Regions from separate parts of the Homo sapiens genome. Here all the other regions are linked to region 1. The links come from fine-mapping of genetic effects on gene expression. A gene starts in region 1. Each other region holds a variant in brackets. All regions are shown on one strand. Distances are from middle to middle. Region 1 holds the start of KYNU (kynureninase). Region 2 overlaps KYNU (kynureninase). Region 3 has its middle 310 kb from the start of KYNU.

Evidence for each region. PIP is the estimated chance that this variant, and not a neighbour inherited with it, causes the effect.
Region 2: its variant is the best candidate, but not a certain one, in a credible set for the expression of KYNU in whole blood (TOPMed, PIP 0.58).
Region 3: its variant is the best candidate, but not a certain one, in a credible set for the expression of KYNU in whole blood (INTERVAL, PIP 0.67).

What each region holds. Positions count from the first base shown.
Region 1 is chr2:142,872,486-142,883,657 of GRCh38, forward strand. KYNU (kynureninase) reads left to right here and starts at 5,179. Exons shown (of 14, transcript NM_003937.3): 1 at 5,179-5,251.
Region 2 is chr2:143,030,774-143,041,945 of GRCh38, forward strand. It overlaps KYNU (kynureninase), which reads left to right. Exons shown (of 14, transcript NM_003937.3): 12 at 2,463-2,548; 13 at 9,655-9,885. Among named protein-coding and RNA genes, the nearest start is that of ARHGAP15, 93 kb to the right of the region's middle. The variant T/C (reference allele first, on the strand shown) is at 6,366.
Region 3 is chr2:142,558,305-142,569,476 of GRCh38, forward strand. No RefSeq gene overlaps it. Among named protein-coding and RNA genes, the nearest start is that of KYNU, 310 kb to the right of the region's middle. The variant G/C (reference allele first, on the strand shown) is at 4,522.

The sequences.
Region 1 (11,172 bases):
ATCAACTTTTTTTTTAATTGAAACAGTATTTTGAAGCTTACACTCCTATTCTTAATCAAGCTTTGGAACTGAAATTAGCATAATTTCAGAAAATGAACAGGAAAGCTCATCTTTTTGTATGATCTGGAATAGTTTGAATAACATGAGGTTCTCCTAATCTTTAATGCTGTGCTAGAATTCATATGCAAAACTTTTCAAACGTAATGTTGCCTTCTATTTTTTTTTCTGTACTTCCTGGCAGTGGGGATGTTTCCTTTTATACAATAACTCTTTAAATGCATTTTTAATCTCCTCTAAAGGAATTGTTTTCTTCAAGTGTTTCTCTTATTTGGTCAGTTTTGAAAATTTGTATTTTGCTAACTAATTATATTTTTCCTCTAAATTACAAAAATATTTCTATAGAGGACACTATTTTCTTACATGAAGACAAGTTAAAATTTCAAATGCATTTGTCCTTTTCTGTTTCTTACTAGCTCTTATTCTTATCTAATACTCTGCATCTTCCTTGTCTAGATTCAGAGCCCCTCAGAAGCACTTTTCTTTGGCTTTTGGGGACATATTGCACCATTCTTCAGATCCTAGTCTAGTGAACTCTTTTCCCCTGCCTGCGATGTGGGGTTAAGACAATTTAGGAATTTGCTATATTTTGGTGTCTGTCATACTGTAAGCTATGAGAAGTTTCAAACGACTGGCAAAATGGTGGACCCATACTGGACACTTCCAAAATGGGAAATTTTACACCGTTTATTAGTGACACTAGAAAATACTTTGCCAGACAAACATAGGAAAAAGGACAAATCCCAGAAGAGGATCTTGAAGTGACATCTCCAAACATCAGCTCTACACTATCCCTGTTGATAGTCATTTTTAATATTAAGAAAAAAAATTTTCTGTTGTAAGTTGTTATGGTAAAAGAGGGCATGTACATCGTACCTTGTACTATAGAAAGAAACCCTGGTATATGAAAGCTTTGTCTTTAAATGGAGATTTTGTAATGCCTGTTCCCGTTTTCCAGAGTCATCATGACATCAATGATGTTGTTATGTGGTCAATGATGTCAATATGACTCAAGTCACTTTGGGTTTTTCATGTTTTACAGGAAACTCAGAAATTCCTCATGTAAACAATCAGACAATTGAGCAAATTGACCTGCAAACACATATAACAGAAAACTACTAAAGTTCTTCTGCTACCGCACATGATTTAGATTGCCTTCTATACCTTTGTGAGTTTAACAGTGAGGGAAAAGTTCTGATCTAGGAAAAAGGGAATGGGTTATAGGAATTTTAGATTCTAAATAAATTTTAATCACCAACTGGCAAAATGTCATTTGCTTATAACGAGCCCTTGCATTTTCCTCTGAAAAACTGAAAATACAACATATAGAGAGGGTAGGAAAGTCCCCGCCCATTACTGAGAAATTTTTCTAATAACCAGACTATGTATCTCACAGGAAGGAAAAAGTAGATTGTCTAAACATAGCCTAGTGATTTATTAGCATATTAATTTGCTTTGCCTTCCCTGTTGTAGGAGGGAGAGGGAGAAGAAAGGAGAGTATGGGTGAGGAAATGAGAGTGCAGTGGAGGGAAGAGAGAAAAAGGGAAAAAGAAAAGGAGAGAGAGAGAGAGAGGAAGAGAAGGCAAGAGGAGGGCATTAGAGAAAGAGGAGAGAAGGCAAGAAGAGGGAAAGAGGAGGGGGCAGCAGGAAAGGAAGGAGAGGGGAAGGAAGGACAGATAAGGGGAGAGGGAAGAAGAGAGGAGAGATAATTTTGTGTGTGCTCTGTTTTTTATATTTTCCCCTACCCATATAGAGAAGATGCTGTAGGTTCCTTGGCAGAAATTGCTTAAGGCAAATCTCATGACTGGCATTTGAGAAAGTTTTTGTTATGTTATATTGGTTATCCCCAAGGGGAAGTTTGGAAAGAGTGATTGGGTGTGCAAGGCCCCAGGGATATGGTGAGGGGAAAGGAGAGGCAGGAGGGCAGAGAGAAGGAAGCTAATCTGCCCCTCCCATCTGGGAACTTCCCAACACCCTGTGTAAAGAAGAAAGGAGAGTTCCAATAATGACTCAGAGTAAATTTTCCTCCTAAGAAGTCACATGTGAGCTCTGCGTTTTTATTTAATTAAGAAAAATAGCGTATTGTGAAATTTTCTGTTTACCCAAGTTTGAGACTGCAGTTTTTTTTATTAGTTCTTTCCTAACTTGTCTCTGTCTTTAATCTCATTACTCATTTCACATACTGAGCACCCAGCATTAGAGTGTTATGATCAGCCTGGTAGTGCAGCCTTGGATTCTTACATAAAGAGTTTGCTGATCTGAATTTAATTTAGTTAATGATCCAGCAAGCACCCATTTTAGTCTACTAAATGCTAGATACTGGCCTAACTATGGCGAAAATGCCCTGAAGAATAAGAATAAAGTTCATGGTTCAAGATTACCTTTTGAGAGGACAAAACTTTCCCATATTTCCAATAATCAATTTTTAGAAAATAAACTAGATCTTAATTAAAAAAAAACAAATTAACCAATTCAGTAGATATTTATTTAGCTCCATACATAGGTAGAGCTCTGAGGAGGATAAAATTAGTCTTTTCCTCTCGGAAACATATCATTTTATAAGCAGGATGCCATACCTGGAAATTAATAGACAACTCGGAATTGTACAACAGCTTATTCTGGCAACACTTTTTTTCTTCCTGTTTCCAAAAGGAAGGAATGGTATCTCACAGTGTTCTCTGTTTAACCTTGACTGCTGGCCCTGTAGCGGGTCTTGCTTTCACCCCTCCCCGCATGACTCGTTCTCTCATAATTCCCTTCTGTATTTAGCGGCCTATGTTATTATACAAGTTTTGCTCCCCATTACATCCCTGGCATTTCACTTTGTGCTTGGTACAGAGAATATGCTTAATACTTTTCTTGAATGAATGAAAGTGTCAACTGAAGAATGACAGGTTCATACATTTGGAAAGGAGAGCTTCATTTCACATAAAGGATTGCAGCCTGCAGGGTGATCATTCTGACCTCTGAAAAGTATAGCCTCTAATCAGAAGCTGGAAACAGACATTTTGAGGGAGGAGCAAAGGAAACAGAAATTTATGTTGAGCAGGGTAGCTGAATATATATATTCAATAAGCTATAGGGGAAGCCATGAATATTTGTGAAAGGAGAAATGTGCACATGCACAATGGAGTTTCATGCTTCTCCATGGGATCCGTGTTCAAAAAATGACAGCATTAATACAATCTGAGGGGGCAGTTTTCAGCCCAATGTGAAGCAGAGGACATGAAAACCTTTACTGCACATTCTCCATAGACTAGCCAGAAACATTCCATGATCAGTATTTTCTTTTTGTTCCAAACCACAAAAGAGAGGGATAACACCAGGTGATGGTTGATGTCATTGGTGTAATCTTTTGAAATGACTGGTTTCTTTTTAGCCATAGGGCAGAAAGCCTAATCATAGTTAGTGATGGAGCGGGTATGTGTTCCACTTCCTATCCTGTCATGGCCAAAAACTTAGTTTTCAAGTTTACTCTGGGATCCCCTTGGCCAAGAGCGTGTCCGTTCAGTTAATCTAGGGGCTTGGGATTTTATTTTTATTCCTCAAATGTAACAAATTTAAAGAAAGAAAGAAATTTATAAAACATAAGAAATAGAAGTATAGCTTAGACCTCCAAGCAAGTTCTTTAAAGGTGACAAGTTAAACAGTAGTTTTTAAGATAATATTTTGATGAAATTTTTAATCATATTATTACAAGATTTTAGAAGAAGCAAGATCTTGTGAAAACAAAACCTTAATGTCCATATCTAGCTCTCTAAATCTATAGTCAGTCTTTAAAAGAGTGACACAAAAATGACACAGATCCGCCCTCTGGTTCGCTCCCCATATATTAGAGCCTGGTAATCTTCCAAAGTTTTTACAGCATGAGGCATACACAGAATAGATGCAAAAAAAGTACACCTTCTGAAATTTCCTGAATGGATTCAAACTTTTACTATTCTAAGTTAATCAATTGGTAGTCTACTTACTTTATAGGATTATTGTAAGGATAGGATCAATGAAGTGAAATATATTTTATTTTCACTGGTCAATTACTCGTATTAAAGCAATTTCATGCACTTTATCTCCCTCTCTTGGAAACTGGAGAGTAGTACTTTTTGTCTGGTTACTTAAGATTAAAAAAAAGACAATATGTCACTTTTGACTTGAGTGTCATGGTATCTATGGCCTTCAACCTGCATGGTTTTATCGTTTCAGTAATCTTGGGAGGAAGGTATTATTAAGTTCATTTGATAAATAGGAGACTGAGCCTCCACAAGGGTTAAGTGAATTGCTCAGGGTTATACAATGAACACTTGATAGAAATGATTAAATGACACTTTACTTGATTTGTTGTGGGTTACTAAATAAAGCATAGGTGTGCATAAGTCATTCAATTATTCAAGCACATTCTTCATCCCTAGTCCTAATATCGAAAGTCTTTGCTCTTAGTTTTTATAACTACAAGGATATTCATCAAAAGACCCAAGCTCAGGAATAAGCCTAAAGAGGTAGTCAGACTAGAACAAAAGACAATTCACAGACTTAAATGAATAATTTGCATTAATGAAGTTTGCCAGGCTAGTTTCCACTTGAATCTTCAGATCTTTCTTCCTTCATTGTCTTGTTAACTGTCCAGATTTATTACCTAGGAGTTTTTGAAAACTCACATATTAGGCAATAGAGTGTATTCTGGAATTGAGAGCCTATTTTAAACTTTTGACTAAAAAGTTTACCCATTAAATGTCATAGATTCAACCATCAGACTGAAAATCCTCAGTGTATTTGAAGGAGGGTATTGTCTCAAAAATCCAGAGCTCAAAGTGAAGAAGAAAGGCAAAATTTGGAATTTAGCTCTAAGACCAACTCATCAGTTCAGGGGTCAGAGATTTATATAGTTAAAGGACAAGTGTGTGTTTACCTGAGTTTAAAGAGCAAAGTTGCCTCTGGAAAGAAGCCCTCACTGGAGGCTCTGGCATTTGAAATGGTGGGCAGGAGCACATGTTGCTTAAATTTCTGACAGTGGCTGGAGATTACCGATTGGTTAGGGGAGAGGAAGTAAAGTAAAATATTTATAAATTCTCCACTGGGTGGAGTCTGAGCAGTTCTTTGAATTTCTCACCCTAAGATCTGGCCTGTACATTTTCAAGGAATTCTTGAGAGGTTCTTGGAGAGATTCTGGGAGCCAAACACTCCATTGGGATCCTAGCTGGTAAGCTTGAGGCGCTGATAAAAACTCTCTACCCTAATGTTTACTCCATGTTTTTTCCAAATGAAACTTCTGTCAGCTAGAATCCTTGTCATAGTGTTTTAGAGGTTTTTTTCTGCTACTCTCTTCTTTTTTTATATATATTCTTTTTGTAAATAAAAATGGTATGACCTTCCTAAAGGCCCCACCTTTAGAAATGGGTTAAATGAAAAGATCTTTACTAATGTAATAGAAAAGAACTGATGAACATAGTGCACTGAATATGGTTACATTTGACAAACCAAAGTTAGTCCTGTTCTTATTTGAGTTTAAGCGGTAAGATTAGGTCAAACTCCAGACGAGGGAAAGATATTCTTAAACAGATTTTAAGTCCTCTGTTTTCTGGTAACTTTAATTGTCTTATGCTGCTAGTAGTCATATTAAATATTTATTTAGAGAAGTGAAAATGCCTACTCTTGAACAGAGTTTCTTCCCCTTTCATTTTATGAAACCTAAGAAAAGAAAGTTGATACACTTTTTAAAAATATACTAGATTTTCTTTTTTCCTTTCTGCTTTTATTTTGAGGCCAGTGGGGTGTTATTTAGTAGTAACACTGAAGCAAATGTATTGATTTTCTTAACGTGTTCAGCAAGTAATTCATATCCTAGATATGAAATATACACTCGTAGCAGAGTAATGTTACCCATTTCTCAATGATATGCTTAAAGAATCTTGCTCAATATGCATATTGTTTTTCCTTTTTTCTTTACTAATGAAAAACTACACGCTTTCTCAACATATTTTTAAGTCAGGTTCTAAACTTTGAACTCCTATGTACAATTTGCTTATTTCAGGCATGAATGTGAAACTGTGTAAAGATTAACTACCAGACACTCAGTCATTTATTTAACTATTTAGCCCTAAATCAGTGGGTGACTAGGAGATTCTGAATTCTGTGATTTCGTTAAAATCAATCAGTTTTTAATTATTATACAAGCTTTTTACTTTAAAGTTGTAGCTGTCTAAATAAAATTGTGAAAGCACAATTTCCAAACCTAAATCGAAGGCACATTGATGCTGTCCATCAGAAGGTATTGATAATTTAAAAAAATATTACAAACTATCTTTTATCTTTTTATAAAGGACCTAATGTCATTTGAGCTTAACCATAATCCTTTGAAGAAAGTAAAATTTAACTTTAAATAACATTGACATACAGAGCAGTTAGGTGATTTGTCTGAGACCATATGGTATGTATGTCCCCCGTCTTGATAAAATTAACACTAAATATGTAACATTTGAAAATTTGTAAAATATGTAAAAGTTGAAGTTTTTAAAAGTTTGGATTTAAGTTCTTCCTTTCAGAATATGAGCATGTCACTTTATTTGCAAACTAAACATGGCATAACATTATGGCTTGTGAACACTAATTGTCTTAGCTGCTGGGGTGAATGCAGAATTAAGCAGCAATTAGTATGAGTGAATAAATTGCATCCTTAGAGTGAGTGCACTATGCTATTCTGGGAACTAAAGACTATATTTGAGACCATGCGAAGTTGTGCAAGTGGTGGAGTAGGGCAGGGTGCAGTCATTTGGAAGACTATGCCCATCAGGTATCTCAAGGTACCCCAGATGTGACAGGCCCAGGAGCGGAACCAGCCACTTTAACTTTTGCCTGGCTGAAACTGGACTGGGAAGGATGGATTAAAAAGGTAAATCAATTCATACGTAGCTTGTGGTCCTTTGCAGCTTAAGTGTAGGACTGAAAAAAGAAGCCAAAGAAAAAGGGAATGAGCTGAAGAAATACACACACGTACACACACACATCAGGAAGCAACAGGCAAGGAAAAATAAAGTGAGAGGTTCAAGGCTTCGAGGAGGAATTGAGCTCTGTGCATTCCATTCATGGGCTTTGCCAAAGACCAGCACAATGGACTCAGCATCTCAGGCATGGTTAAGTACCCTACTGTGCACTCTGCTATCCTTTTAGTCCACTGGTTTCTACTCTGTCTGTGCCAGGTTTTCATCTCAATATAGAGGAAAAGGATTCTGATGCCTCAGGATTATTACAAGCATTAAATAAGATACAGATAGAATGACGCTAATGAGTATCATTTTTAAAATAAGGAAAGTTGAATTTTATTCAGAATCTGTTGGTAACAAACTAATCTCTTTATTTAAGTAACCCCACTTAGAGTTTAAAGTCACCTCCAATCAACTCAAAGGGCTGACCTCCCAAAGAAAGTCTCAAATATAAGGCAAGCTCTCTTGATTCTGAATTTCATTAGAAATGTTTGTCTAAGTCTTTCTCATATGGTCAGAATGAGAGAGGGTGCCCTTCTAGTAATATGTCATTATGTCAAATAATTCATCAACCAATTTTGTTTATTCTCTCGAACTGCCACTTTGGCGGCAGGGGTACTCTGTCTAAATGAGATGTCTATAAAGATAAATTAAACATGATTCAGGCCCCCAGGTAGAGTTCAGTTCAGTAGGGTAGAACAGCAACTCAGTCCAGCTACCATCAGTAATATGTTTGTAGTAAGACTAATCTGATAGTAAGGCAGAAAAACATCTCATGGAATTTTAGGAATAGCCAAGAAGATGGGTCCCCTGGAGACTTGCACATAGCATGTTGCATGAAGGATTCAGTGACTTGCAAGATGGGCTTGTCTTGTCACCTTTTCAGGAGACATAGCTGTTCAATCCCTTGCCATTGTGTAACTAAGTGACTCTTACTTGCTGCTGGAATCACTTCATGCTTTTCATGCTTTAACAATCAGTGGTTCTGTTTTACTTTGAAAAATGAGTCATTCTATGACAGTATTCCTCCTAGACCCTAGCATTTCATAGCTTCTATCTATGATTATTTTAAATTCTAGCTCCTGTATCTAACTGAATGAATAAGCACATCCCACAGCTCAGATTCCTGAAAGAATTTGATTATGTACTCAGCTAAACATCATCACTGTTTGGTTAGAGCTTTTATAGCAAATAATTCACAGATCTTTGATGAAACTACATTGTCTTTAGTGGGTAAGTGTCCAACAGAGGTCTAATAAACTATGACCAGGCAATTGATAATGCCAAGCGGTAGAGACACAGTGATCTCTCTTCAAAATGCAGTTTCCTTCATCAGAAAGCTATGTGTGGGGAGCCATTTAGAATCAAGTTTCAGGCATAGCAAATGTTTTTGATCTTTCCTATCCATACATATGTCCAAATAAATATAGTACCTGGCAGAATGTATTATTATCGTAAGTAAAGTACATAAGTGTGCTCTTAATTGTTATTGGTGTTCAGAGGAAGACGGGCTACTTTTGCCTGAGACATCCTAACAGGCCTCTTGAAAAAAGCATTGGAGCATTAGGTCTTTGAAGGTTGGCTAGAATCCAAACAAGTTGAAGGGGAGCAAAACATTTTAGGCAAAGGAAATGGCATGAGAAAAATCACAGAAATAGAAAATTTCATGTGGAGGACAAATAATACTTATGGTCAGATATTGAAAGCACCATCCATCAATGTTGAAATCCTACACTTTTGTACAGAACCATGGATTGAAGCAGTTAGGAGTCACAACTGATATCAAAGTAAAAAACATGCAATGGTGAACCTTGGTATCTTTGTCTAGGAATATAAAGAATGGCTTATCAGTGGAGACCATCGACAGTTGAGAAAAGAAGAAGCCCAAAAAGTACAAGAATGAAAATCGAGAGTGTAAGAAGAATGTCTGTTTTACTGGCATTATCTAACACTCAGATATGCAACTCTTTATTGCCAAACACTGTGTGTGTTAGTTAAGGTAAAAGGTGAAGGGAGGCAGAAGAATGGAGATTGAATTGAATTCTAGAGCTTTAGTTCTGTGTGAGTTTGGGCCCCCAGAAGTTCTAGACATTAAGTACAGTCTGAATTGAGAAATATTAAACATATCTTGTGATCCAATATTCCCCTAAGTTATACACTCAAATATCCAATGACCAGCTTGACATTTCTACCTGCATGTTCAATACTTATTTGAAACTTAATATATCCTAAATATAATTTTTTTTTAAACAGTCATGCTCTGTTGCCCAGGATGGAGTGCAGTGGCACAATTAGCTCACTGCAACCTCAGACTGCTGGTCTCCTACCCCATCCTCCTCGGTAGCTAGGACCACAGGTGCATGCCAGTGCCAGCACACCTGGCTTTTCTTTTCTTTTTTCTTTTTTTTTTTTTTTTTTTGTAGAGATGACATCTTGCTACGTTGTCCAGACTGGTCTCAAACTCCTGGCTTCAAGCAATCCCCTGCCTCGGCCTCCCAGTGCTGGGGTAACAGGTGTGAACCACCACAACCAGCCTGCTAAACTGAATTCCAATTTCCCTCCTCAAAATTTTTCTTCCCCAGGTATTTTTATTTCATCATATTTCACATATTTGCCCATATCCCAAAGCTAGAAGAAAGCTCCTTTCCTGTCCTCACTAGAAATAATCTATCCACCAGTCCTATCTACTTTTTCTCCAAACTACATCATAAATCCACACTCTTCTCTCTACCTTTGCCCTCATCACCAAATTTAATTCACCACCGTTTCTCTCCTGAACTACTGTGTTATCCTTAATCGGTCTCCCTTTTCAACTTTTTTTTTTTAATTATACTTTAAGTTCTAGGGTACATGTGCACAACGTGTAGGTTTGTTATATATGTATATATGTGCCATGTCAGTTTGCTGCACCCATTAACTCGTCATTTACATTACATATTTCTCCTACTGCTATTCCTCCCCCATCCCCCCACTCCACGACAGGCTCCGGTGTGTGATGTTCCCCGCCCTGTGTCCAAGTGTTCTCATTGTTCAGTTCCCACCTGTGAGTGAGAACATGTGGTGTTTGGTTTTCTGTCCTTGCGATAGTTTGCTCAGAATGATGGTTTCCAGCTTCATCCATGTTGCTGCAAAGGACATGAACTCATCCTTTTTTATGGCTGCATAGTATTCCATGGTGTATATGTGTCACATTTTCTTAATCCAGTCTATCATTGATGGACATTTGGGTTGGTTCCAAGTGTTTGCTATTGTGAATAGTGCTGCAATAAACATACATGTGCATGTGTCTTTATAGCAGCATGATTTATAATCCTTTGGGTATATATGCAGTAATGGGATTGCTGGGTCAAATGGTATTTCTGCTTCTAGATCCTTGAGGAATCACCACACTGTCTTCCACAATGGTTGAACTAGTTTACAGTCCCACCAACAGTGTAAAAGTGTTCCTGTTTCTCCACATCCTCTCCAGCACCTGTTGTTTCCTGACTTTTTAATGATCGCCATTCTAACCGACATGAGGTGGTATCTCACTGTTTTTAAAACTCATTACAGAGCTAAGTGGTTTTTATTTAATGTAAATTTATATCACATTACTTTTCTACTCAAAACTCCCCAATGGTATCCCATTAAACTTATAAAATTTCAGTTTTCTTTCTGGCTCCCAAATTTCTTTTTTTTTTTTTTTTTTTTTTTTTTTGAGATGGAGTCTCGCTGTCGCCCAGGCTGGAGTGCAGTGGTGCAACCTCGGCTCACTGCAGGCTCCACCCCCCGGGGTTCACGCCATTCTCCTGCCTCAGCTTCCCGAGTAGCTGGGACTACAGGCGCCCGCCACCTCGCACGGCTAATTTTTTTTTTGTATTTTTAGTAGAGACGGGGCTTCACCGTGTTAGCCAGGACGGTCTTGATCTCCTGACCTCGTGATCCGCCTGCCTCTGCCTCCCAAAGTGCTGGGATTACAGGCGTGAGCCACTGCGCCTGGCCCCAAATTTCTTTATGACTACCTTCTGCCTTTGTTTTTTGCATATCACAGTTTGTCATTCCTCCTTCCCTCTTTTTCCCTCCCTAGTGCATTTAGTTGAACAAGCCAAGCCCATTTCCACCCCAGGAACTTTGCACTTGTTGCCAGGTTCCTCCAGGTCCA
Region 2 (11,172 bases), 160 kb after region 1:
GCCCATCATAAGCTGAAAATATCATAAGTAAAAAATGCATTTAATACACCTAATCTATAGAACATCATAGCTTAGCCTAGCCTACCTTAAAACACATTCAAAACACTTACATAGCCTAGAGTTGGGCAAAACCATCTAACACAAATCCTATTTTATAATAAAGCATTGAATATATTATATGATTTATTGAATACTATACTAAAAGTGGAAAACACAATGGGCGTATGGGTAGTCGAAGTATGGCTTCTACTTAAGATGTACTGCTTTTGTATCACTGTAAAATTGAACAATTTTAAGTCAAACCATTGTTAAGTCAGGGACCATTGGTATGCAGATTTGTAGCAACCAAATTGCAAAATGGGATATTCCAGTCAAGTCAGGATACCTGTATTTTACCTTGGCTGCTAAAATAATTAGATCTGTTATTATACCAGTTATTTAAATTCTTTGAGATGGGTTTTCTTATTTGGAAATAAAGGAATTGAATTTGATCAGGGGTAGCAAACTTTTTCTGTGAAAGGCCAGATAGGAAATATTTTAAGCTTTCTAGGCTATACAGTCTCTGTGGCAAATACTCAATTCCGTCATTGTGGTGGTAAAGCAGCCATAGGTGATACATAAGTGAAAGATTGTGGCTATGTTTTCATAAAACTGTATTTTAAAAAGCAGGGCCTGGCACGAAGACTCACGCCTGTAATCCCAGCACTTTGGGAGGCAAGGCAGATGGATCAATTGATCACAGGAGTTTGAGACCAGCCTGGGTGACATAGTGAGACCTTGTCTCTATAAAAACTACAGAAATTAGCCAGGAGTGGTGGTATGCATCTGTAGTCCCAGCTACTTGGGAGCCTGAGGCGGGAAGATCACCTGAGCCCGGGGAGGTCAAGGCTGCAGTGAGCCATGATTGAGCCACTGCACTCAGGCCTGGGTAACAGAGTGATACTCTGTCTCAAAAACAAAAACAAAACTAGTGGGTCAAATTTGGCCCACAGGCCATATGGCCATATATTAGTCTGTTTTCACACTGCTATAAAGATACCACCTGAGACTCAGTAATTTGAAAAGGAAAGAATTTTAATTGACTCACAGTTTCACATGGCTGGGGAAGTCTCAGGAAACTTACAATCATGTCAGAAGGCAAAGGGAAAGCAAGGCACATATGAGGTGATGGGAGGTGAGAGAGAGAGAGAAAGAGAGAGAGTGCATAAAAACTGCTGTTTTTGGCCGGGCGTGGTGGCTCACGCCTGTAATCCCAGCACTTTGGGAGGCCAAGGCGGGCGGATCACGAGGTCAGGAGATCGAGACCACCCTGGCTAACACTGTGAAACCCCATCTCTACTAAAAATACAAAAAAATTAGCTGGGCGTGGTGACAGGCACCCGTAGTCCCAGCTACTCGGAAAGCTGAGGCAGGAGAATGGCGTGAACCCGTGAGGCGGAGGTTTCAGTGAGCCAAGATCGCGCCACTGCATTCCAGCCTGGGCAACAGAGCGAGACTCCATCTCAAAAACAAAAACAAAAAAAAAAAACAAAACAAAAAAAACTGCTGTTTTTAAAACCATCAGATCTTGTGAGAACTCCTTCACTATCATGAGAACGGCATGCAGGAAACTGCCCCCATGATCCATTCACCTCCCATCAGGTCCCACCCTCGACATATGGGGATTACAATTCAAGATGAGATTTGGGTGGGGACTCAGAGCCAAACCATATCACCATAGTTTGCTTAATCCTGGATTTGATAACTATAAAAAAGTCATCAAGTTTTAACATTCTTTTAGTCAGTCATAGTGTTAACTTATCTCTGACTAGCTATCTTAACCCTATTGAATTTAACTTGCTACAGTTCAATCTGCTTAATTCTAATTAGTAGAGCATCTGTTATTAATTTACCTTTTTTATATACTTAGGCAGATCTTTTTTTTAAAGCTCCCTCTATTGTGTGTGTGTGTGTGTGTGTGTGTGTGTGTCTGTGTGTGTTCTGTAAGAGAAACCACTTGACCTAACAATCCTAGAGCTAAAAGTCAGCTTCATAGGTCATTTCATTCATATTTCTGCCTTTGGGAGACATTACAATTACATGCCACTAAAAGCTGATGCTCTCTCTCATTGACATGGTTTCATAATAGAATAGCAAATGTTGAGCAGAATAAGGAATCCTGGCTTGGGAATAGGAAGGCAGAGAATGAGATCCAGAAAAACTTCCAGAAGAGGTCATTTTTACCTTGGGTCTAAGATTTCTGGTGTTCTGCTAAGAAGTTGGGGACAAGGGAGGTGGGAACTGCTGGTAAACGGGAAATAACGTCGATATTTTAGTTCCATGGAGCTTATCTTAAATATCTCAGAAATCCTACTTAGGAAGAAAAGTTTAAGTCTTGCTCTTTTACTCTCCAGTACTCTAGTATCTTTATGGACACTTTTAAAGTTACCTTCTATGATAATGACATGATATTAATTTCTCAGAACTGCAGTTAATCCCTGGGGTCTGTGGATTCCGAATTTCAAATCCTCCCATTTTGTTGGTCTGTTCCTTGCATGCTAGTTTAGAGGTAAGTGATGTGTGTTTCAACCTTCCCACATCTTTGCGTTTTTTCTTGATCTGTTTGTGACAATTCATAGTACTTTCTCTGCTACACAGCAAGATGATACATGTGCACTGTGCATGAACAAGGGACAGAAGGCAGCATTCCCCTTTAGGACAGTGATGATGTGGTGAGGGTCTCCCTTCATTCATGTCACCAGCCCCCAGCACAATGCTTGGCACATTGTTGGCACATAGTAAATATTAAATGGAACTCTTTTGGGGAGATACGTTTTTTACTCCACTTAGAATCTGTTTAAACATGAATAAGTTATTTAACCTTCTCTTGGCCTCTCTTTATACCAAATAAGCATGCAATATTTAGTTCTTCATAAATTCGCTCATTCAACATAAATTTATTGAGAAAATATTGTGTGCCTGATGTGATTACTAGGGACTGTACTTTTTCTAGTTCATTGTAGGTGAATGAACTGACCAAGTACCATGTGACAAAGCTAGGAAAGACTTACTTGAAGGAAAAAAGAATAATCAGAGTAAACCAAAGATTAAATAAGGTTGTCTCATAAGGTAGGGTGGTTTTATGATTTTTTTAAATTGGGACTTCTATGCCATTATGTCCATTTATAGTCTCCACTATCACTGACTCAATATTTTCCTTTAAATTAATTTATATTTTTATTTAGGTAAATTTAGTCTCACCCTGAAATGATAAATATACATAACAAGAAAATGAAATTGTGATTCCTTAGATACTATTATTTAGTGTTAGACTAAATGTGGCCAAGTAAAAATATATAGGTTATATAGTATAAAATTCATATATAATGTAAATGTATAAATATTTACATAAATAATGTAAATATATAAAGTAATTGTATATTTTGTATACCTATATTTAAGTAAAATATATTTTAAGTAAATGTGCATATATATTTCTAATAGAAGTTTTACATAGAACTATTCAAACAAGGATTTGAAATTTTTTCATGTCTCCTTCTAAAATCATGTAGTTTATGATATTTTGGCAAAAACTTATAGAGGATTTCAGCATCAAATGAGTGACAGGATGAAGATTCAAAATTCCTTCTAATCTAAAATTGCATAATTCTGTGAACACTTACAGCAGTTTCTCATTCTGGCCACTGGATGGCAGCATCAAGTTCCTCTGTTTTTATTAAATTTCACCACTGGATAGTGATCATCACCTCATTTCATTCTGTCTCAATTTAAAGCGCACCTACTCAGTTTAACCACTAGATGGAGCTTGTGTTGTTTTCACTTCATGGCAGAATTTTTCTTTAACTTGGAAAATAGACACAGTAACGAGATTTTTCAGCCAGTGATATATATTTTTGACAGTTTTTTGAGTAAAAATCTGCTTAGTAAATCAGATAATGATATTTGAGTTGTTTTTATAGTATCCATTCAGATAAATATTTTGTTTAAACATTTTAAAACAAAATAAAGTTTCTGCATTCCTTGCAAGTTTGTATCAGCGAGATGTGTGACAATATCAGAAGCACCAGGACATACCTTAGGAAGAGCTTGTACCTAAAGTAATTTCCTCTGGTGCCCATATCTTTGCAAATAACTTCTCAGACGTACCTGGAAATTTCCTTTTAGACGCCTTCACTTTGGCATACTTTCTGCAGTGGACTGGCTTTTCTAGTAGTATTCACCCTTCTCTTGTGGGAAAGGAAGCACATTCCTATTCTTCCAGCCACTGTTTTCCTACCACACTGTATTAGAGTCACCTAGACAAAGTTTTTATTTTCAGTTATAATCTGAGAACTGATTTATTTTTTCTTTTTAATATCTAAACTTAAACCTCAGCCTCCTGAGTAGCTGGGACTACAGGTGTGCACCGCTACACCAGGCTAATTTTTGTAGTTTTTTGTACAGATAAAGTCTTACTATGTTACCCAGTCAATATCTAAACTTAAAACCCTAAAAGCCACAAGAAGAATGATATGCATTTCTCTGGATCTTCTAATCACTTACATATTTCCCTTGAGCCTCTTTCTGCTCATTTCACTGCTGAGACTATGTTCTAACCAAAATTATCTTTAGTTAATCAAGCCTTATGTTGGTAAAAGTGTTTTTTCAAAATTCTTTCCTACTGTAAATTGCAAAATTTTTGAATTACAAACTAATGCATTGAATTGCTTCCCTTTCTCTGTTAAAATGTCTTATTTTCTAGACATTTATGGGTTTCTCATGTGAGTAAACATCAGTGAATTAACTATGCTTCTATTAATACTTACCTTCCTTTAAGTTTTATTTATTTATATTTAGAGATGAGGTCTTGCTCTGTTGTTCAGACTGGAATGCAATAGTACGATCATGGCTTAGCATGGCCTCAAACTCCTGGGGTTCAAGTGATCCTCCTGCCCCCACCTTCCAGGTAACTGGGACTGCAGGACTGCACCACCACACTTGGCTGATTATTATTATTTATTTATTTTATTTCTTTATTTTTGAGACAGGGTCCCCTTCTGTCACTCCTAGAGTGCAGTGATGGGATCTCAGCTCACTGCAACCTCTGCCTCCTGGACTCAGTTGATCTTCCCACCTCAGCCTCCACAGCAGCTGGGACTACAAGAGTGCACCACCATGCCCGACTAATTTTTGTATTTTTTTATAGAGACAGGATTTTGCCATGTTGCCCAGGCTGATCTTGAACTACTGGCTGCAAGTGGTCCTCCTGAGTAGCTAAGACTACAGGGCATGCCACTGTGCTCAGCTTATTTTTAAATTTTTTTAGAGATGAGGTCTGGCTATGTTGTCCACGTTAATCTGGAACTCCTGGCCTCAAGCGATTCTCCTGCCTCAGTCTCCTGTTTGAAATGTTTGTTTTTCAGTGCTATAAAGAAATAGCACTTGAACGCAAATTTAATTTATTTAGTAAGGCCATTTTTACTTCCTGCAGAGAGGATACACTCGCCAGCAGTTTTGCCATGAGAGTACACCGAACAAAGGAGACAGGGTCATTTATAACCTGACGTGTCCACCCTACTGCTGTGTCCAGTTCCAATGGCTGGAATGGGACCTCCCATTCTGTATTTGTCCCGATTGGCTAGTAACTTAGAACTTTTTAAAAGACGTAAAGGTAGAGGGTAACAAAGGAAGGAGGAAGTAACTTGTGGAATGCTAAGAAAGGTAAAAACACTTTTAAATAAGGAAGAGGAACAGGCTGTGACCTAATGCTGCTTGGACCAGTATAAGCATGCCAGGGCAAATATTTAGGCTAAATTGTGGGAGCTAAAAACATAAAGTATATTGATTTATTTATTACAGCTAGCAGATATTTAAGAATGTTAGCACAGGTCTTTGAATAAATTTTGCTTCTAAGAGAAGTTACTATTTATTCCTAATTAGACGGGAAGGAAAGTCTTTGAAGAGGAACCTCTACTTTACTTTTTATACTCCTAAGCAGTTGGGATGACAGACGTGAACCACTGCACTCAGCCACCTTATCTTTTTAAACCAGTTTATTCCATTTTAGGAGATAGGTGGTTGAAGTTTCAATAAACGAAAGAAGTAAATGCATGAATCAAACTGCCTCTTTGTTGTCTCTACTTTTAAGAAATATTCAACACAGTCAAATACGAACTGGAGGAGAGATTCTATACTTAAGAATCAATCACATATAAATAAGACCTTAGATTTTTAATGCAATGACTTTTTAAAAAGATATTAATATGGCTTTTTTTAATAAATACATGTGTATATGGTTGATTGATATAAAAAATAGCACATTGTAATCAGTTTCAAACTGTCCTTTTGTTTATATTTTTTTATCTGAATCATTTATACAATAGTTC[T/C]TAAAATATTGTGGATCAAGGGATGAAGCCTGAGGCCAGGAACCTGGTGGCAAGTACTCTCTCCCTCAATGGACACGAAGTGTGACCTTACACAAGCAACAACTCCCTTTGGATGTATTTGCCTTATTTTTTAAAGTAAGATGTTTGGACAAGATTATTTTGGAAGTCTCCTCACTTTCCAAAATACTTAAATTTAAACAATACGTATATTATATTTTGAGGGTTCATATTTATGTGTAGCGATAGGTAGACAATATTTAGTCCCTTTCAGTATTCTGAATTCATAATGAAATAAATGGCTTCAAAATACAAAGTTAGAGCATTCAATTAAAATACATGGCGAGTCAGAAGACTCAACAAAGAAATGTACTATACGTTTCCTTTCAAATTTCCTAGAGAGACAGTTTTAAGAATTTAAGAGAAAAATATGACAATTGAAAACATCACACCAAACTTATTTTTCCTGTTTAAACTTATCTAGCTTTTCAAGCTTTGTGTTCATTTTGTCAGTAAGAAAAAAAATACAAGTAGTTGAAACTCTGCAAAGTATTATCTTCTAAGCTGAATATTTTTCAAACCACAGTTTTCATTTTTTCTAATTTAAAAAAATTATTTTCTCAATATTGAAAGCATAACATTTATGAGAAGCAAAAAAGAAAATAGAATATTTATGTTACTTCCCTATTATTCTCTCTCAATATTTTTATGTGAAGCTCAGAATAGACTTTTACCCTCTGTGAGATGAATTTAAAAGTGCCTCAGAATGCAGTTGCCCTTATTGTGGTTGTAATGGAGAAAGTAAGTTTTATATTTAAAAGTTATTTTATGATTTAAAGAGTGTTAACATTCCACAGTATATTAAGATGGAAGCTATTTGTCATACCAAAAAAATTGGTTTCTAGTTATCAAGAGAAAGCTTCAAGAGCAACATTCCCTACGCCCCTTTAAAAACTAAATGCAAGTAATATTCCTCCAAGTTTTACTAACCTATGCACACAAATGAACTATCATTAAATGTGATACTTCACATATCGATTGCCCCCATGTACATATTAGGGCACCCATAGCATAACCACAAAATTTCCTAGAATTATTTATTATTTAGAATTTCTTAGAATATTATTAAGCTCCAGAGAGAATCTTGGAAAGATTCCTCACATAGTCTTTTTATTCCAAACTTCACAGCCAAACCAGCTGTGGCCCGTGCCTTGCCTGTCCCTGCTCCTCTGGGAGAATTTTGATTCTTGTCCCTTGACCCAAAACTTGGCAGTGTTCCCTTGAGTCTTCATTATGCCAAGTCTACCTACATTTGCTTTGCCCAAGAAAATGAAGGAGATGCCTCCTACCAAGTTCTGTGTAACCTGGGTCATCTGAATCTTGGAGCACTATTATTTGTACTGCAGATCTCTCTCGGGAGCTTATGAAGCCAAGATATCAGCCTCTACTTGAGCTGTCTCTGTAGACTTCAGACATTGTCTGGGAGTTGTGGTTGAAGAGAGAGACAGGCACCATTCTGTCCTGTTTTTCCTCTCTTGCTTAGATATCATTTACCTTCAGTACAGTTCCCAGCCTCTCCTTCAGCCAATCCATAGCCTCTATACAGTATAGTTCCAGGAAATCTATGGCTGAATGGTTTGAGTTTTATTAGAGTGCCTGCCTACACATGCCACGTGTACATACAGGAATAACTGTTTTCATAGACTTGATAAAGTCTCAATATCACCAAATGACCCTATCTTTGCTCTTGATATCTTTGCTCATGACACAGAAAAGGAACATTAAGTGGCAGGCCAGTGCATCACGCTCTGTTTGCAGTTCATTTAGTTCTTATACATAGGATATATTTTTACACTCTACTTGACCTTAAGAGATAAGCCAGAAAAGCACATCTGTTCTGACCCCTAATATTCCAACACCAGTTATTGTGTGCCCTTGTCACTCATCTTAATATAAGACATCTCAGCCCACAAATGGCAGTATTTTCACACCAGTGCTAGAGTTTAGAAGGGGGGAAATGAGAGAAACCAAGCCCAAATGCTTCAGTAAAAATAAATGCATTATCTAATATTATTTGCTTTCCTCTCTGAGGAAACTTAGCATTATTATTTAACTGCTTGTTTTCTTATTGTTAAACTGGAAGAGATTTGGGAGTCAGTAAAGCAGTTATAAATATCACCAGTAACACTGCTTTACACATTTGCACATGTTTAGATCATATTGCACTTTTTTGAGGATAAACAAACTTTACATCAAAGTTGGAAAAGTCTTCTTGATTATGATTTCAAAAAGTGGTTTTGGGGAAAAGCTTACATTGTATGATATTTAAATCCATTTATTAAGGTATGTTTTACTTGATTATACTAACTTAATTTAAAATAATTTTGAAGGTATGTTCCCGGACCAAATTGAGGGTTGGGCTGCTATTTCTCATGGCCCAATAACAAGATGCAGATGAACAGGGGAGGAAGAGAGTTTTTATTTCTGTAACTGGTTACAGGGAGAAGGCCTGGAAATTATCACCAGACCAACTCAAAATTACAAAGTTTTACAGGTGTAAGTGTGCATTCATCTGAAGACATAAGTGATTAACTTCTTTTAATCTACAACTAAGGTCTGAGTCCTGAAGACCTTCCTCTGGAGCCTCAGTAAATTTACTTAATCTAAATGGGTCCAGGTGCTGGAGTGATTACCCTTATCTTGTCTTCTGCTAAATCACTGAAGTTTGAGGAGTTCCTTTAGACCTTCAATAAACTTGTTTGTAGAGGCCTGGAGAGTTTCTTCACAACCACAGTAAAACTTGTTTAATCCTGAATGGGTCCTGTTAAGAATTCCTTCATTATTCTGTCATGCTTTAAGGCCCAGGGAAAGCCTAGGCAAAACTCTTGATAGGCTTTTGTTCATCCCAGCCTTTGTATAAGGGCACTGACTTTTTTAGTTTTTAATATTTAATGTAACCACTCGGTCAGTACTGAAACAGTTGTGATGGAGGCCTGCATTAGTGAAACCTGGCCTGCCACAGGTACATGATATTAACTTACATTTTCTTCCTTTGCAAGTTTTATTTAAGTGACATTTGTACAATTTTTCTGTCATGGAAATTTTACCTTCAGTATTTAATAGCAAAGCATTTAAAGGAGGGCATGATTTTACACAAAAAGATTATGTAAAGGGAGATATTTATTGGAAAGATCAAATATGGGCATTTCCTTTTTATGCATGATTTACTCTTAATTTTTGCTTCTTTGTAAATCAATAAGACACTTTAATCTGATTGTTTCTCATTCCACAGATCTTTAAGCAAGCGACAATGAAGGCATTGCGGAAAAAATCTGTTTTGCTAACTGGCTATCTGGAATACCTGATCAAGCATAACTATGGCAAAGATAAAGCAGCAACCAAGAAACCAGTTGTGAACATAATTACTCCGTCTCATGTAGAGGAGCGGGGGTGCCAGCTAACAATAACATTTTCTGTTCCAAACAAAGATGTTTTCCAAGAACTAGAAAAAAGAGGAGTGGTTGTAAGTATGTCTTGCTTTGCTACCAGATTTTGTCTATGGGCCGCATGTTAGGGATAAAATTTGGACTCTTTGGTTTATTCATTGTTGCATGTTATTTCACATCAGTCAGTCAATTAAGGATAAATTAAGTGCCAACTAAGCCCTCAGCACTGTGCTAACTGAAAGGCATAGAGATCTGTCGTTTCTGATAAAAGAGAAGATACCACAAACTTGGCTTATAGGAATAGTTTTTTGTAACTTACTCATTCTTTTCATAACAGTTTGGGCAGAAAAAAGTTATTATTTCATCATACTCAGTCAGGACATTGTTTTCTCTAGTCTGTACTACAATTCATTTATTGGATGAATGGAATTAAAGATCATACCAATTTATTGAAGGGTTAAAAAAGAAAGTCTTATTTAGTCGCTTGATCAAATTAAGTTATTTTCAACCTTGTCACTTCTGTCAAAAAAGATATATATACACTTCTCAGGAGTGGTAACATTGCAAGGAATAATTTTTTTTTAACCCTTCAGCCTATATGACCTTCTTGGTCTCTTGAAGAGAACTAATAAATGTGAACTGAGTAATTTCAGGGAAAAAAGATAATGTATCTACTTCCAATGATTATGTAATTAAGGCATTGCTTGGCTCATGTTTACCTGTAGGAGAGGTTACTCCCAGATGCTGGAGACACAAGTCAGAAATTCAAGTTTCTAAATCAAACTCTGCTGTCGTCAAACTCTGTCCTCTTTGGAAAGTTCATTAGGATCTATTGGCTTGAAATTTTCATCCGTATTTGGGGTATAAAATAAATTACCTCCAAGAGTTGTGATTGGATTGAAATGGGACAGCACACATAAACTATATACTATATTGTCTAGCCTATAGCAGGTGTTTTCTAAAGTTAACCATAGTGATCTCTAGGCATGTCAAATTATCTGGTGCTACTTCAGGACCTACAATGTAGCCCACTTCTTATTTGTGAGATCAAAGATTAGAGAATTAAGTTCAAGGATAATTTACTAAAACTCTCCAGACCCTAATGAGGTTTTCATTCACTTAAATTCACCCAAGAATTCCAGTCCTTCCATGGGGTCCCCACGGGAAAAAAAAAACAAAATGTATTTATGGTCTATTAAATGCTTAAGGAAGATAGTTGCTGAATAGATTTCAGGAATCTATCTTGGCTATTTATGCACCAATCCATTCTTATTTCTTAAATTATTATCAAGAGAAAAGTTTCATAAAACAGAAAAACACCATGTTTTAAAGTAAAAAAATTTTGCATATATATTAATTTTTAG
Region 3 (11,172 bases), 310 kb before region 1:
ATTTTGCCAAATCTGGGAGAAAAATTTCAAGTAACTTAGGCTAAAATGAATCCTCAACAACTTTTAAAACAAAACCTACTTTGGTCCACTTGTGGACAGAAAATGTTTATTATTATAATTTCATAAAGATCATTCTGTCTTCCAAAGTTATTTGATTGTCACCAACATGCAAGGAAATGCCATCATTCAGTTTACCTCACCTTACCTACTGGAAATCATAGGAAGTGGTTAGTGAACTTAATTCATTTTTATTGTGATTGGTGGTAACCAAGTTTTGAGAGAAGTCAGCATGCCTAAACTGTTTAATGCTAAGTTAATAACTGAAGTGATGTTTCTATAAGTAAATTGACAGTAAGGAAACAATTTCAGTTTTCTCACGTAGAGGTAATGCTTTGTTCAAACACTTGGAGACTTTTGCTGAAAAGATCCAGGGAAACAGAAAGCATTTCTATGTGATACTTTTGTGCTTATCTAAAACTAATATTAAGAAATTTAAATAAAATGAAATGAATGTTTATATTTAATTTGAATTTTGGCTCTTTCGGAAACAAATTCTAGTCAAACTTTTAGCAAAGGATATGGTCCTGAATAATTTAAAATACTCATTCATCCCTAATAATCATGGGTATTTCTAAATAGTAAAAAGTGGGAAATAATGTTAAAATATTCTACAGAGCTGTGTATGTGTATCCACATTTCCTTTCATTACTTATATTTCTGGTAAATTACATTTGAAAAACCACCAGTGAAAAGACAATGAAATTTCTAATTCAACCTCTTCTGTAATATATTCTGACAAATAAAATGTTCTAGCCCTTAGGCCTAAATTTTCACTATTAATTATTGAGTTTATTTAAATTCCCATATTAATAGACTACTGTTTTAAGAGAGAATAGTCATCTGCTTGAGTAGAATCACAAACTTTTTTTTCCATTTAATAAATTTGGTACAATGCACAAGTCATTATTCACCATGCTAATTGCCCTGCAGATGAAAACCTGACTTGTATAGAGATAATTACAAGTGTGCAAATTTCTAGTAATTTTCAGCATTATATCTAATTCATTTCATTAAAACTTTATTGAGGACCTACTATGGGCTTAATACTTCTAGTTGATACTTAGAATCTGAAAAAGAAGTCTAGAGCAAGGACTATGCTCTAAATAAGATTACAATACTCTAATGGGAAAAAAACCATAAATGTCAGATTAATTCTATATACTCCATTCTATCATGTCTCTGAGCTTTTTAACACAATACAAGTCAATAATGTACCTAGCCATCAATGTATATTTTAAATGCCACTATCTTTATACCTGCAATGATTCATTCAGCTAGACATAGACTTTTTTGTACTATATTTTCCCCCATAGGATTATTCTTGACCTGAATGTCAACAATTCTAATATGGGTAGTTATTTTGATATTTTATGATTTAAGAGCAATCATAATTAATGATAATTAATATATAGTCCTTATATGTCAGCTATTTTTGAGTGATTTGCATATATTAATGCATTCATTCTCCCAACAATTTTATTTGGTAAGTTCCATTATTACACATTTTGCAGAGGGAGAAAGTTAAGTATAGAAAAGTTAAACATCCTCCCAAAGTTCCTAATCCTAGAGGATGGTACACTCAGTCTTTGAAGCCCAAAGGTTTGGCTCCTGAAACTATATCCTTAAGTATCACTGCCTGTTCTGACTACAAAGTAATGAGTTAATTCTTGGCACAACCCAAATCTGATATAAATCAATGATGCATCTTACAACAATTGGTTTGTTAGCTACAGGGAAATGTGGTATTTTTCTAATATATTTTTAATACTTAAGTATAATCCAGCTTAAACTTCCCTACTGGACAAAAAATTATTTGTGGACTCTAGAGCATCTTACAAAATTGACAGGCTCTGCTGATGTTAATGTTTAATAAATATCTATCATATAAGTGAATAAGAAATAATCATGCTAATTATATAATAGCTTGTATATAAAATGTCAAAAGGGAAGTCAATATTACACAAATTTTGAAAAGTAAATGATGACTAATTAGGCCTGATTTTTAAAGGAAAAACGTTAAGAGGAGAACTCATACTTGAACTGGACTTTGGAGAATTTTTTGGTTTGAATACACAAATAGGATAGGAGAAGGCATTTCTCAAAGGAGAAATGTGTAAGGAAAGATTCAGGGGTAAAATTACATATTCAGGACTAAATGAACATAACAATTTTGGTAAAGTAAAGGATTCCATTATGGAGATAAACTAGAAGATAAAGACAGAGATAAAGCTGGGAGAAGATGGGTGCAGTCACTGAGAGGCAAGTAAGGAGTTTACAGTCCGTCAAAGCTGATAGAAGGTACCTACACAAAGTGAGGTTTTAGGATTATTAATCTAGCAGCAATTTGAAAGAAAGATAAGTTCGACAGTGATTCACCACCTAGAATAGTAAAATAAGTAGCGAGCTAATGAAAACCTGTAAAAAAATGATGACTGTAACAAGACAAAAGAAGTGACCAATTTAAAAAAAGAAATATACATTTTAAAAGCTAACTATCCTTAGCAATAAGTAGACATAAAGGAAAAATGAAGAATCAAGAACTGAAGACAGTTCAGTCAGCAAAGAAGAATGTAGAGAAATAAAATGATATTTATAGTCACATGCCCTGGGTCCAATTCTCAATTACTAACTGGAATTTTCAGTAATTTTTTAATGTTCCTTTGCCTTCCTTGCTTCAAATGTAAAATGGGAACAAAAATGATATTTACTTCATCTGGTGGTTATGAAAACTAGGTAAGATTGAGGGAGGATAGTAGGGTCTGGAGGCAGGGAACTTCAGGCCAATTGATGCTGAATCAAGGAAAAACACCAAGGTCTCAGGGCAGGGAATCTGAGGCCAATTCGTGCTGACTTCCCAAAATTGGATCAAAAGGAAAACACTTGGGTTTGAGGAATGGAACCCAAGGCCAGTTAATACAAACTTCCTAAAGCTAAACCAAAAGGAAAAAAAAAAACCCTACACTGAATAACAAAGGATCAAAGACTACTCTCCCTACAGCACGTCCCCTTCCTCCACATCTCAGATGGAAATGGAGAGTGCCTTGGACTGGCCCTTGGCCAAGCAGGGACAATATCTTCATATGTACAGGGCACCAATTCACCTCAGCCTTCAGTTAGCCACAGACCAAATCCTTCATCCACATAAGAGGTAACCAATAGGAACCTCAAAATGAGTACCTAAAATCCAGAGAACTTTGTAACTGTGATGGAGGCAGGGGCCATCTGGAGCAGCCACCACTGGGATGGCCAGCTGCAGCAAGGGAGGGGCAGCCAAGACTGTGTACTCCATGGAGCCAGTGGGAACCAGGAACCGGAGGGAGCCCTCCTCCCTACAAAGTTGGCGGGGCAGGAGCTCGGTGCTCTCAGGCACAGATGCAGCTGTCCAGCCATGGCTTTGGACCCAGGCATCCATGTGCTCTCAGGGGCCCAGAAAGTCCCCTGCCCCTGCAGATTCAAAAGTGCCTATTCCCACTCCCTGGCCTCTCCCTGCTCCTGGTGCCCACTCTGGTGCAGAGAGAAGTTGTGGCTGAGCCTGGGCTCTGTTGTAACATGGCCAGGTGTGTGCTCACTTCGGGTGGCACTGACACATCAGCCCCGTGCCTCCTTGGTCCCCTCCAGACTTTGGGTGCCAACGAGCTTGGGAGGGAGGCCAGGAGGCTGAGGGCAGCATGGCTCAGGCCAACAGGTGTCCCTCAGCACAGACAGCCTGGCCACTGTGGACAGCATGTTGAGGATGGCAGGAGGCAGACAGGTTCCTAGGTGGGAAAGGGAGAGTCCCCAGTGAAGCTCCACCTTCAAGCCAGAGACTGCCTGAAGTCTGGGTGCCAGGCTGCCAGTTTCAGGTGGAGTCTGTGACCCAGAGTGAGGATTTATGGTGCCTTTTCCTGGGCCACCCATGGCTGCTAATTGACCAATCAGCACACTCTTCCTGCCTTCTGAGCCCATAAAATCCATGGACTCAGCCAGCTTCAGATGCTCCTTGGGACGACCTGCTTGTCGATAGGAGCTACCCACTTCATGTCTTCAGAGAGCTGTTCTGTCACTCAATAAAGCTCCTCTCTGCCTTGGTCACCCTCCAGTTGTCTGTGTAACCTCATTCTTCCTGGATGCAGGACAAGAACTTGGGATCCACCAAACAGCAGGAGCCAAAGAAGCTGTAATATATTCCTGGCTGGCTTATGGAGCTTCAGACAGTGACACACTCCCAGACTGTGGGAATGAAGAATGGTGATACTTCAGGGGGTGCAGACCTTGGGATTCCCTGAGCCACAGATGCAGTAACACTATAGCTCTCTTGTCCTCTGCTGCCACCAGGCAGCCACCCAACACAACAGGAGAAATGAGACTGAAAGAGCAGTAACAGAAATGAGCTGAAACACACCCCCACAAAACATTCCCTTTCTCTGCTTGCCACACTGTGGGTGATGAGGAGAGAAGACCTGCAGACCTTCTGGAAGCAGA[G/C]CTGGGGGCTCCCTAAGCCAGGGCTGTGACATGCTGTAATACCCTTTTGAGGCTCTGCAGTTCCTGACATCTCTGAACAATCTGGCACCATCACGTCCCCCTTGTCCAGGTGCTGGTCCCTGCAGCAGAAGCTGCTTGAGGTATGTCTGGTTCAGTTGCAACCTAGCACAGAGCCAGCACCTGTGTCAGTGCCTGTGCTGCCCGCCCTGCCGCAGCATCCAGCGTGCCTGGTTGTGCAAGGTGGCTAGACCCCATGCTCACTCGCTCACATACCCTTTGCTGCTCTGCACCTGGCTTGTCCGCTTGTCCTTGGCAGGCATGGGATCTGGGCCAGTAGCTCAAGCTGAGTGCAGCCTTCCTGGCTGAGTGGGTAGAACGAGCCCAGTGGGCACAAGGAAAACCCAAGCAGAGGTGGCACCGGCCACAGAAGTTTCTAACTGGTGAAGACACCCTAAGGCAGGGCTGTGACAACTGTGCCTTTGAGCTGCTTGTTCAGGCCCACTCCCACCCTGTAGAGTGCTTTCTCACTTTAATAAATTCCCCTTTTGCTGCTTTGTTCCTGTGTTTCATTTCTTTGTTACTTTGATTGTGCATTTTGTCCAATTCTTTGTTCAAAACAGGAAGGACCTGGACATCTCACACTCAGTGCCCTCCTTCCGGTAACAAGATGATACGTGTAAACTCCTTAACATAGTGTCTAGCAGGTAGGGAACACTCAACAGCTACTAACATATATCTTACTATTAACTTAGTATTAAATTACTAAAAAAATTCCTAATATTGTTCTACTGATTTGAGCCTAAATGACTCAAAAACATGACAGCTAAATGGGCTTCTAAATGAAGGCTGTTTAGAGCGAAAGATAATATTCTAAATATTTTTATTTTCAAATAATTATTAAGGAACTTGGAAATCACACCAAGAAGTTAAGAACAAGCAATAAGAAGAGAATTTTTAAATAAATCTTTTTGGGTTGAGCTGAAATAAAAGCATTGGTCATTATTCCTACGATGGCTCAGAAAGCACAGTCAAAAGGATCTTCTCAAATTCTGTAAGCCAGACCATTTTCTGCCTTTAGCGTGCTACCCTAAATCTGGATTGTTTTTGTGGAGACTAACAACCTGACAATGTGGTATATAATTTCAGTACAGGACATATGATCCTTGAAGCCAAGGGAATTTCAGAATATATACATCAATACATTATAGGAGACAAACATAAGAAATATTCACTGGACTGTAAGCTCCATGGGAGCAGACACTGTGTCTGTTCTATTCAAAATTAGATACCCCAAAAGATGCCTGCACTCAACAAGCAGATTTTGAGTGAATAATATTTTTTTCTTTTTTTATTGTATTATTATTATACTTTAAGTTTTAGGGTACATGTGCAAAATGTGCAGGTTAGTTACATATGTATATATGTGCCATGCTGGTGTGCTGCACCCATTAACTCGTCATTTAGCATTAGGTATCTCTCATTTTTGAGTTAAGAAAAATGTGACTACTATTTATTATAAGCTTACACAAGGCTGCCCATCTCGTCAGAAGTGGAGCCAAAAGATGATTCTACAGCTGCCTAATCAAAAGCCTGTTTTGTCTTTCCACATATGTGTCAGTAACTGAGTTCAAAATTTTAGTGCTTTTAATGATGCTCAGGGGCGAAAATGGATTGGTTGATAAGGCTAATATTCAACTTTTATTCATTAACTAGAACATGTTCTTTGGTTATGAGAAGTAACATCAAAAATTTTTTTAATGAAAAGTTAATATTTCTGAGGACCTTAAATTATGTTACAGAAATACTAATATTATGAGTATCAAAATGTAATTTAAAATCTGAAGCCTCCAACTAGAGAAGTTTTGCCTTGATCTTTTCAGTTTTGCAGTACTTTTCCCTAATCTCTTACTTTTATGCAATTAATGCAAAATATTTTTGGAAGGTGGGAGATACTTATTTGCTTGTATTAAATTCAGAGTCACTTTCTATTCATCTTTGAGATAAGTAGAACTATCTGTCTGAAATTCAGTCCTAATGAATTACACTCTACTTATGGGCTTAGTGAAATTAACTCCATTTATATTACATCCTTCTGGAAATTGAAGGCAAATTGGGAATAGCATAAAGCTGCAGTAATATTGTTCAATTTTTTGATAGGCATCAGAATTTTCTATAGACTCTTTAGAATTAGTGTAGATAAATATCAGAAATTCAGTCTTAAATACACATTGAATGGAAAGACATCTGAAAGTTCAAATAGGTAAAATAAGTTGTTTTACTTATTTTTACATCTGTTAGATTTTTGAAACTGCTTCTAAAAGTCCATGTATGTTAGTTTTCTGGAGCAACAGAAATGCATGTTTTAGCCTCTCCCTATACTCCACAATGTTTTCTCTATCTAAGTTGATGCTGGAAACAAAATATACATTTTAAATATATCAATTTATAATCTTTTTTCCTAAAACAATGTTACATCTTTTTATCTAGCACTTTTGATATTAGCTTAACAACACTTCATTTTCCATAACAGTTTTTTAGACATGACTTGCAACCACATTTTATGCTTTGAATATTAGCCAAATGTCTGAGTTCTTTTGTTTGTTGGTTGGTTTGTTTTAATTTTATTCAGCAACCCTAGTCTTCCATTTAAAGGAACACAAAGTGACAATTAAATGTGGATAGCATGATTCTTAAGTGTTTCTGTACTCTTACTCATTGTTTTGCCTTACATTATTTTATTGATAAATATACTGACCTTAAGGAACAACTTATCTTTACAGCCTCATCAGTTTAAAAGCTACATTTGATTTAATTAATAGGGTGAGTTTATGGGAAAAGCTTTTATCGATGGGCATTCGTTTAAGATATCTTGGCCTTTTGAAAGAGATGCACTATGATAATTGGTCTAAGATCATGTTAGAGAGGGCAGGTCACTTTATATTTTCTCCCAACTAATAGAGAAGTCAGGTGAGGTTGTTTCCTGACACAGCTACTATTTCATTGTTTTGGCTGATATTACTGACCCCAGAAAGCTATTTCCAGTATTACTTGGGCCCAGTAGATATAGTCATTGGCAAGCACCATGCAAATATGGAAAACAAGTTGTTCTATTCATATCAGAACATCAATTTACCATTAATTTTCCACTCTTGATTACATACATTGCATCTATCAAAGCCATCATATTGTTATCTGCAAACAAGACAGGCAATTCTGGTTTGGTGACCAAGGCTAATTATTATTGTGGATGTAAGGGGAAGCTGTATTTTAGACCATGTTTTGACACGGTAAGGCTTTGGTCAAATAATCTTATTCAGTAATTTTCAACTTTAACTGAATACTATTGACTCATTTGAACATTAAAACATAAATAAGTTAAAACAAATCAGAATGCTGAAGACTGTATCCCACTCCCAGAGATGTATCCTTCTATTTTTTTGGTATATCAAATTTTCCAACTATAATCTTAACATACTTGTATTTTTTTTGCAAATAGGCAGTAGCAAATTTGACCCAGAGTTGAAAAGTCCAGAAGAAATATTTTATGTAATTCATATATTTTTAAATTAAAAATGCATTTCCCTTCTTTTCAGTGACATTGAGTCTGTAGATATTTTTTACTTTTCTTAACACTTTTTAAAAATTTTTTTCTTTAATGAAGTACATCTAATCTAATCTAAAAAACAAAATGGAGTCAAATCCAATCCTAAATGTGGTATTTTTAGAGGACAGACCCCTAAATATTTTACCTTTTCAGTTAAAATAGACTTCCAACTGAACATGTAAATACATCCAAATTGTTGCCCCAAAGTAAGAAAGTTTGATTAGTTGGTTACTGTGTAATATAAACCTGTTACTATTATTCCATGGAATTTTGAGTCTCTTAATATTCAAGTCTCATTTGGGAGGAATTATCAGACTGCAATATCTTCCATTTTCAACATAGTAGAGAAAATATAACCTGATTATTATAGCTATATTATTGCTGTGTTTGACAGAGAAAGAGAGTATAGTCTTTGACCCTACGGATCTTAAAACCTCCTGAGAGCAGACCCAGCTCTTGTTGCTCCAGAAAATGAAATAAAAATCTTTGATTATTCAGATAATTAATTTAAATTATATAAACAAAAGGTCAAATCTAGGGATTTTTAGTCTCAGAAAAATGGAAAAGATACCAAAGGGAAGCTGACATAAAAATGAGGAAGAAAGCTTTCTAACTAAAATTCTCATCCCTTCGAAGCCGTAGTATTTGAAGCTGTGAATATCATCCTGACCTCGTGATTTGTGGCTGTACTATTTCCCCCCCTCTCTATTCAATTAGGAAAATTTGCGCTGGTCATTCATCTCGATCTGTGTTACGGGGGCTCCGAACCCTCTTGAATTCTTGCTGAATTTATACATAAGTCATTGAGGTTGACCAAGGAAGACAGACCAATGAGTACATTCTCAATGTTTATACCAAGGAAATTAATTTAAGATATAAGATCAAACATATAGGGTTGAATTTGTTGGACATTCAGAAGCTATGAAAATCTCATCCCAAAAAGCAAAAGAAGGAACTAAACCTAGACACATTCCATCTTTACCTGATAGAGAAATTTAAGATTGCCTTGAGACGAAAATGTCCTTGCCTCTTTGCTATTTGTCTATATCTTTTTATTCCTTATTGTATCTGGGGTTCATTGTATCAATTACCATCAAGCTATTTTTTTTCTTTATATTTCACATTATCATAAATTCAGGAGACTGGAGAAGACCTTGAGAGTCTCAGTTTTATCTCTCCTTCTCCTCAGACAGTATTCTTTCTTCACAATCATAGGCTGCAAAAAATGTTCAGAGTACTCAGTGAAGTGTTCCACATTTGTTAGCACCAGATGATGTCACTCTCCTTGTTTCTATAGCTTTTTATAGAAACATTTCATCGTTTGAGATCTTCTTGGGAATCTTCCTGTCTTTTGATAAAAATTTATGTTGTGCCACATGAACTCATAGATTTATTACTTGACTTTATTTCACTTTAAATGCATTATTTTATTTTTATCCTTTTGAATATGTATTTGCTTGGTACTTTGTTTTTAATCAATTTGCCTTTATATTTTTCCTCCTTACTTCACTCAAAAACTAGAATCTAAAAGCCTCTTATCTATTAATATTTGAGAATCTAGAGATTACCTTTTATTTCAGAATAAAAAGAAGCTTAAATTGTCTGTATCTATATTATCTACTATCTAGCTATCTATCTCCAAATTTTGTATTTTGTTCTTTGGTTTTATTGTCATCACTTCTTTTGCCTGTCCAATTTAATTAATACTATTAATTCCCTACTATGATAGATAACATAACACTGCAGGTTGAAATCATAGAACAATTAACCCCCAGGAACATTGCAGTCATGGCCCCAGGTTTCAATATGCCACAAACACTCATCAATTTAATTTGAAATTAATTTGGCTTTTGCTAGTTATTCGAAAACACCAACAGTTGTCGATTCCCTTCAGTGAACTAAATGTGAATAGTTATTATCCTGCAAGCATTTCTCCTGAGGTAAAGAAAATGTGAGCTCTTATCATAGATACCCTCACCACCCTTGCCCACAGCCTGCTGAAGACCTGACCCTAAATGTATTTGAAAGATATTTTACCATCCTTTCTAGTAGATAAGAACTTAAATTTAATTACAGTAAGTCCAAAATTATAGCTTTTGGGAAAGAGTCACATACTAAATCCAGGTTTATAGATAACCATAAAATTGAAAAAGTTGGAACTTAGACCTAACTTAGAACTGACTTTTAATACCAAGTTATTGAGCAGTCCATTTAGATTAAGGGAAAAAGTAAAATATTTTACTCATGGATTGCCATCTCTTTTTGAAGCTTGGTGGCTTATTTTTAGGTATCTTTTTTTCCTTCTAAACCTACTATAAACCTTAGTGTAAAATATTTTACATGTATAATTGGCCAAGATAATAAAAATGCTTAAATGCAATTCAGAGTTATTTATCAAATGCACTGTTCCTAATCTAATGTTCCACAGATTATAAATAAGTAAAGTGTAGTCAGCCAGTTTTTTGTTTTGTTTTGTTTTCTATCTTGTTAAATGTGAACACCACAATAAAGGCCTATTATATTTTGTTCTTATTTATGTTATTAAAATTTTATTTTAATATACTTTTTTATTTCTGAAGTGTGAATTCTTTTACATTCCAATGGATAATAATATTCTGTGGGAAATAACAAGTAAAACTGAAGAAACATTTACTAGAAAGTGAAACAAAATTCTGTAAGATCATTTTCAGAACAAAAACTAAGGCAAATTTTTGACTTTCAATCAAATGGTTTATTTTTAATTTTCTATCTGCTGGACCTAGCCTTTTTGAAAATTAAATTTTGAACATTGTTCTTCTGCCTTTCCTTTTATTGTCACTTTCTTTCATCTCAATTTCATCTCAATTATTACCAAAACAAACACTAATTGTGTGAATTATGATATACCTGAAATTATTCCCAGTGCTTTCATACCTTATTTACTATTCATGCCTACTGATATGGTTTGGCTGAATCTTCACCCAAATTTTATCTTGAATTGTAGCTCCTATAACCCCCACATGTTGGGAAAGGGACCCTGTGGGAGGTAATTGAATCATGGGGGCGGG